Homo sapiens: one gene and its partner. The protein of the gene in region 1 purifies or fractionates together with the protein of each later gene. This does not show direct contact. Each region holds a gene or a part of one and is shown in the gene's direction. Other genes may lie near its edges.

Region 1 (3,820 bases):
CTGCTTTAGCCTCCCCAGTAGCTGAGACTATAGGCTCCTGCCACCATGCCCTGCCTCAAACATTGTTCTTTTTGTTTGTTTGTTTGAGACAGTCTCACTCTGTCGCCCAGACTGGAGTGCAGTGGCATGATCTCGGCTCACTGCAACTTCCGCTTCTCGGGTTCAAGCAGTTCTCTTGCCTCAGCCTCCCGAGTAGTTGGGACTACAGGCATGCTCCACCACGCCCGACTAATTTTTGTTTTATTAGTAGAAACAGGGTTTCGCCATGTTGGTCGGGCTGGTCTTGAACTCCTGACCTCAAGTGATCCGCCCGCTTCAGCCTCCCAAAGTACTGGGATTACAAGAGTGAGCCACTGCGCCAGGCCTCAAACATCAATGTTGATACCTGTTTTCAAAGTACTGGAAGAAGGTAGGGGTAAGGACAAGGAACCGGGAGGAAGGCTGGCTGGGAAGCTATCTTAGGTTTTAAGAGCTGTGTTGACCAGAGACTCCATCCACTTTCTGCCCTGAGTATCTTATTGGCAGGTTTTCTTATAGTCAGTGGAAATTTTCGGTCTTAGTTACAGCTGCTTGCATAATTTCTTTCATTGTTTATATATTTTCTAGATTATATTTTCTTCCCCTCCCCACTAGTTGCTGTTGGTTCTTATTTTATTCTAATCTTTCTTCCCAAAACACCCCACCCCCAACCAAATCTTCCCTTCTTAACATAAATGATGAGCAACGAGGATGGGTGAGAATGAGGAATTGGATTGCAAACTGTAGAGTATGTGCCGCCTTCTGGTTTGATGTGGGTGCCTAAGGTATATGGCCATATTCCATATCCTGTAAGGAAATCCAGAAATCTAGCCCAGCCTTGTGTATGGTGGGATTCATGGAGAAATGAAAGCCATGAGGATTCAGGGGCAGGAAGAGCAGAAGTAAATGTACATTTTTTTATTCCTAGAGATTCTTTTGTTCCTTGTGTGTGAAAGCAGTGGAGGGGACAGGCAGGCACTTAAAGAACCTCTTATCAAGCAACATTTATATTGTAAAACATGGCTTAGAGGATTTTGTGTTATTTTTAGTCCAGAGGTTTGTTTTTAATGATTTGCCAGAAATTTTTTAAGGAAAGGAAAGGTTCCAAGTTACTCTATAGACTATACTGTACAAAGATTTCTAATTTTAAATTTAGAATAAGATGACAAAGCAAACCGTTTCCTTCTTGGATGCTTTCTCGGAAGGCAGTCAGGTGGTGCTAGAGTAGCTAGACAGACAGTTTTTCCTAGTTTTTGCTACAGTTCTTACAATCGTTTCTTTTCACCCTCTACTCTTCAACTGTGTCTTACTTTTCCTCTTGTATATTTTCTTTCTGTCTTGTTACTGGATTGTTTCCTCTCATAGGTTCTCTTTTCAGTTATGCGCACAAAAGATACAGTACAAAAAGTCCAGTGCATTTTATTCTTGAAAGTATATAGAACTTCAGAATGAAAACACCACTTTCTCACTGCACTTCCATTTTATCGTGCCATTGCCATTTCTCATCTGAGCCATCCTACCCTTGAGCTTATTCTCTGAGGACAGAAATGGGAAGAAGGCCCCAGAAGCAGTGGGTGGGGGTGGGAGGAGGCTGCTGTGCTGGTGAGTGGTGGGGTGTTGGCTCTCAGAAAACAGGAGCATGGACAGTGTCAGCTTGTTGCCATGACAGTGAGGTTATTAACATCCACTTAGACTGTCTTCAGTGGTCTCTTACCCAGGCATGATAGTTTTGGCTTAGATGGCTACCTGAAGAGATTCAGTATAATGCTACCAGTTTTTATTGAACATTTATTCTGTTCAAAACATTCCCAAAGGCAACAGAAGATACAAATAAATCTCTGCCCATGTAAAGGTGTGGGGGGCATTAGAAGGCGTTCTCTTCGGTGTAATGAAGTAATGAGAGAAGAAAAAGTAGTTTGAAGCTATGGAGTAAGGGACTTTGAGTATCCCAGGCTCAAAAAGTTGGGACTTGAACAGTACGGGGGTGCTGCTGAAAACGTTTGAGGGAGGTAATGACATGATCGAAGCTATACTTGAGAAAGGTGAATCTGATAAAGTATGAGTGAAAAAGAGACTGAAGGTCTAGAAATTAGATTGAGGCTAATGACAAAATCCACATAAATAGGAGGACTTGAACGAAGGGGCACTTAGAAGAGGACAGGAGATAGTAAAAGGCATTCAATGATGAGAGCACACACTACAGGGGAGCATGAGGGAGGTTGGAAAAGATAATGAAAGGATTACCGAGCTTCACTGACGATGTGTTTGAAATGAGCAGGAATCTTGTAGTGATCCTAATCCGTGGTTTTCTGGAGCATTTCACAGCCTAGGAACATACAAGGGGGGCATCTCCCTGGAATGTAAATTGACTAAGAGGAATTCAGTAATGGTCAAATGAATGCAGAATTTTAGAGTCTTGCTTAGTATTCTCACCACATTTCGTTTAATCTACTCATACTCTTTTTCTCTTACTGCTGACACTAGATGGAAAAACTCTTAATTAAAAGTATTTCACAAAATGTGCTCGTTTTCAGTCATTCCGTTTCCACTCCAGCCTGTTGTGTTGTTTTTTTGAAATAATAATTTAAAGTAATTTTCCTTTTGCAGGATGGCATAGTCAATCCAACAATAAGAAAAGATTTGAAAACTGGACCGAAATTCTACTGCTGTCCAATTGAAGGCTGCCCCAGAGGCCCTGAGAGACCGTTTTCTCAGTTTTCTCTCGTAAAACAGGTACTCTCTACTCTGAGGATGAGATACAGATGCTAAAAACCTATTGTGCATTCTGATTACTTAGCAGACATAACTACAGAATTGAGTAGACAGCTGCTTGTGAGGGGAGATGCCTGCGTGTCTCCCAGTTGGTATAAACCTGAGTATGCTGTTACACAAGTGGAGGGAAAAGCGGCACGGTCTGGAGGGAATATGTCTAGAACTGAGTTAAAATACAGAGAGAGAGAGTAAACCAGTTCAGCAAAGAATGAGAAAATGTTTGCTCGCAGATCTCCTGTGTGAGTCTGCATACCTCCAAGGGCCCAGCGCAAAGGCACAAAGGAACTGTTCTCCCAGGGGAATAAGAACCTGCAGAATCCAGGAAAAGAAGAGTTTTGGAAGCCGCAATCTTAAGAGGAGGGAGGGCCCCAGTGACTGGGACAAGAGGTGATTCAGAACTGGAAGAGATTGGCATCTGAAATGTTCCCCTGAGGGTCTGCTGGAGGGCGTCCTGAGAAGAGCATTGTAAAGACATTTTTTTCCTGCCTGCAGCACTTACAGATCAGAGTGTAAATGCTGGAGACCATAGATGTTTCCAAAACAATCTCCTCACTTTTCACAAAGCAAAAGCAACAAGAAGAGGCATATATATAATTAACTGCGATGTTCCTGCTTTTACATTCTTTTGACTTGGACTGCTGTATTTTATGTTATTTATATTAATAGTGTAAAATCATTATTAATTTGGGTGTATGATGGTTTCTGAAATGTTTTGACCAGTTGCTGTTTTTCACCTTAGTCCCTTCTGCGTTCCTCCTAGCACTTTATGAAAATGCATGCTGAGAAGAAGCACAAATGTAGTAAGTGCAGCAATTCGTACGGTACAGAATGGGACCTGAAAAGACATGCAGAGGACTGTGGCAAGACCTTCCGGTGCACATGCGGCTGTCCCTACGCCAGTAGAACAGCACTGCAGTCTCACATCTACCGAACTGGGCACGAGATACCTGCAGAACACAGGTGAAGGGAAAGAAATGATGGCACAGAAGTCAGTAGCTATGGGAAGCATTTCAGATGAAACATCCTGGAG
Region 2 (3,820 bases), on another chromosome or scaffold:
CTAAATCAAGACAGCCGTTCTTTACTGGGATTCCAAAGATCTTAAAGAGTCACCCAAAAAGGAATCAAAGGTGGTTAGGGACAGAGGAGAAAAGGTCAGGATTAGCCTAAGGTTTAGCTACTTTCCTGTTTTATTTATAATATTTTTGTTGTTGTTGTTTTTAAATGTCCTGTGGTATTTTTGATTGTTTCTGTGCTGCTCAGCATTCTTCCGAGGTCAAGTTGCTTTTGGTAAATAGTGATGCTGCGTGTGGTGGTTCCCATGGGTGCTGGTCTCTCTGTGTCTTACCAGCTTTTCAAACTCCATGTATGTCATCTTTTCTAGACCACTCTGGCTCACATCATAGCCAGCAACAGCAAGAAACATAGCATAAGGTTTGTGACATTATCTGCAACAAATGCCAAGACAAATGATGTGCGAGATGTCATAAAACAAGCTCAAAATGAAAAGAGCTTTTTCAAAAGGAAAACCATCCTTTTTATTGATGAGATTCATCGGTTCAATAAATCTCAGCAGGTATATTAACTTCCTTCTACCTTTTGGTCGTTGTGAACATCAAACAATATAAAGTGTGTGAGATCACTATACAAACGCTAGAGACTTACGAGCTTTGTTTACAAAGAAGCGTAGGCTTGTGAACCCATCTCCTTCAAGCCTATTTCTCCATACATTTCTTAGTGTTTTTTGATAACAAGAAAATGCTTTCTCTATCTGATAAATGAAATGGTTGGCATATCCCTGAGCTATACGTATCAGAAAAGCACCTTTGAATCAAATTTCCAGTTTTAGGAATTTTTAATCTAAATACTAGGAGTCATTGTGAACAGTAAAATAATGATTTTAAGGTCATTATTTTAATGGGTTTTTAAAAATTACTTTAACAGTATTTTTATTTTGAAAATTAAACAATCGGTATTTTCTGTAACTCCAGGCTCTGTCTTCAAGGTGAATGTTGGAAGAGCTAATGATTACTGTTTATTTAAATGGGTTTCTGAAATAAAAGGACACAAGCTATTTTTATAAACAAAGCCACTTAGGGATTTAAAAAAAAATAAACATTAAAATTTTATTGGGCTGAGATCTGAGAGCTATACTCTAAATAAAAAAAAATTAAATTTTTAGGCATAACTTTAAAAAATTTTTTTTTGTAACTTTTTAATCATACATAGAATATTTCACAAAACTCTACTGAGCCTTTTTTGAACCTTTTTGAATAAAAAGACCCTTTTAAAGTTCTGACGAGGCGTTAGCATTCTAGGTTTCATATTGGACCACTGACTCATCTTAGTATTTTTTCCCCATAAAACAGCATAATAGGAATAATAATAATATGATTGAGTGCTTGCTGTGGAAGAAGATTCTGGAAGTGTTAATGTTTTTGTGTGTTCTTGTCTATAAATAAATAGCTGTTACATATAAGCTATGTGCCAGTTCAGCCTTTGGTAGAAGATGGTTTTCTGAGTAAAGAAATCATTTATGTTGAAACTAAGCTAGAATTCTACTTAAAGCTATTAGTCTACCAGCAAGAGATCAGGCTTGGACGGGCATTCCAGAAGATGTGTTTCAGACTTAAAAGCAAGAGTTGTACTCCCCCAAATATTGCATCTATATTCAGTGAATATAAGGCTGCTGCTATTCCTGAACTCGAAAGATAAAAATGAGGAAAAGGAAGGAAGGGATAGCCAACTTACATAGGATTCTGCAGGTGGCTGTTGACTGGAATCACTTTTTTCTGTTTTCCTCCCATGATTAGGACACTTTCCTTCCTCACGTGGAATGTGGGACGATCACTCTGATTGGGGCAACCACTGAAAACCCTTCCTTCCAGGTCAACGCTGCTCTTCTGAGCCGCTGTCGAGTGATTGTTCTTGAGAAGCTTCCAGTAGAGGCAATGGTGACTATTTTAATGCGAGCGATCAACTCCCTGGGAATCCACGTCCTAGACTCTAGCCGTCCCACTGACCCTCTGAGCCACAGCAGCAACAGCAGCTCAGAGTAAGTTGACAGTGTGCAGCGTCCTGGGGGCACACACCTCCCAGAGAGTCTCCTGGCAGGGGGCCAGAAAGGGCCGGGCGTCAGTGAGGAGAGGGTGGGGACAGAGAAGAAATGTTGATCCGCCCGTAATGAAAATAAAAGAGGAGGGAAATGTTCGATTATACCTAACAAAGTTATCCCTGCACACTTGAAGATGCATTTTCCAGCCTCTAATATGTGTTTCTATAATTCTTCAAGCTTTAACTTTGCTTTGTTGTTTTGGTTCTTGGGTGTTTGCTTTTGTGCTTAGGCTTCTATGGGAAGCCTTATTGATGATTTGAAAGGCTTTATGTCCCTCATTGAATAGAACAAATAGATAGATAAATACTTTCTAGACTTACCATACAACTCTTTTGAGCATTGTACTCATGTTTCAATTTCTTTTTAACCTGCAGTTTAGCATTTTGTTAAAAAAAAAAAATCAAGTAAAAATTAACTTGTAACCTTAAAATTATGTAATCCTTTTTGTGTAGTTGAAACTCAGTTTCATGAAAGTAAAGGAATGTTAACTGAATATGACATTATAGGCTGTCCCTATCCTTTTAGTGACCTATTTCTGCATCATGAGTACCACATGAGCTCGTTAATGCACCAAGTGTATATCATAGATAATTTGATTTCTTGGGTCAGGGGTTTTCCTTTTTTTTAATATTAGAACATATTCTTCAGATGGTATTTGTTCATACGTTGGCTGAAATACTGCCATGGAACATAATCTGGTGTGATGAGAGGCTATTGCCCACCTCCTCCTGCTGTGGACTCTGCAGCTGCTCGTGCCTGCCCTGAGGCCAAGTTCTGGAGCCACTTTTCTGTGAGGATTAAAGTACAAGGCATAGTTTAGGCTCAGGGTTTAGGTTTCACCAGGCTCTCCCTATGTGTCTGGCCCCATTTGCTCCTGTCTGAGATGGAGGGAGAATTCTGCTGTGTCTAATGAAAGCATTGAAACATTTGGCCCGTGGACCACTGGGTAGGACAGAGTGGCCTTGTTTTGGAATACCGTTGTGATGGGGATAGCCATTACATCTGTGGCCACAAGCAGTGTGTGGAACCTGTGGTATCAGCCACATGGACTCATACTCAGAAGTGCTTTATGTGGTGGGCATTTGTCAGAGCCTAAGGGGGCTGCCAGCTCCTCATATGTAGTACAGGTTGAGTATCCCAAATCTGAAATCCAAAATGCTCCCAAATCTAAAGCTTTTTGAGCACCTTCATGATGCTGTGAAAGGAAATGCTTATTGGAGCACTTCAGATTTCTGGATTTTGGGTGCTCATCTGGTAAGTATATAATGCAAATATTCTAAAATCAAAAAAATAGGAAATTCAGACCACTTCTGGTCCCAGGCACTTCAGATGTGGGATACTCATGTGTAGGTTTCCCGTAACAGAATTCTCATTACAGACGCATAGAACCACATGGTAAAGACAAATTGAAAGAAAAGGGGGGAAATCCTAACATGTTTCATGTTTCTGTGTGTTCTTTGCTCTGTGTACTGGTTATCGTAATGTATCTGCAACTTAATATTCTGCATGTGTACTTGTCTGGGGTGATTTTTATTGATTTCATGTCATCAGTTCATGAAATAGAACATGAAATCAATAATTAATATTGATGACATGAAGTCAATAATAATCAGTTGTTACTCAGATACCCTCAGGTTTTTTCACCTCTCCCCAGTCACTGCCGTGCAGGAATTTAAAGGAAATGAGAAAGGCGGCAGCCAAGGAGCTCATCCTTGTGAGAAGAATTTCTATATTTTATTATTAAAAATCCTCAGGTGATTTGCAG

The links.
Region 2: the proteins of ATMIN (region 1) and WRNIP1 purify together in Homo sapiens (affinity purification with western blotting; one study listed by BioGRID). This does not show direct contact.

Annotation. Positions count from the first base shown.
Region 1 is NC_000016.10:81,038,731-81,042,550, forward strand, and holds part of ATMIN (ATM interactor), read left to right. Parts: exon of another isoform or gene 1-1,581; intron 1,582-2,625; coding exon 2,626-2,751; intron 2,752-3,550; coding exon 3,551-3,750; intron 3,751-3,820. UniProt on the Homo sapiens protein: Transcription factor. Plays a crucial role in cell survival and RAD51 foci formation in response to methylating DNA damage. Involved in regulating the activity of ATM in the absence of DNA damage. May play a role in stabilizing ATM.
Region 2 is NC_000006.12:2,768,367-2,772,186, forward strand, and holds part of WRNIP1 (ATPase WRNIP1), read left to right. Parts: intron 1-324; coding exon 325-516; intron 517-1,691; coding exon of another isoform or gene 1,692-1,747; exon of another isoform or gene 1,748-1,753; coding exon 1,754-1,995; exon of another isoform or gene 1,996-2,010; intron 2,011-3,820. UniProt on the Homo sapiens protein: Functions as a modulator of initiation or reinitiation events during DNA polymerase delta-mediated DNA synthesis. In the presence of ATP, stimulation of DNA polymerase delta-mediated DNA synthesis is decreased.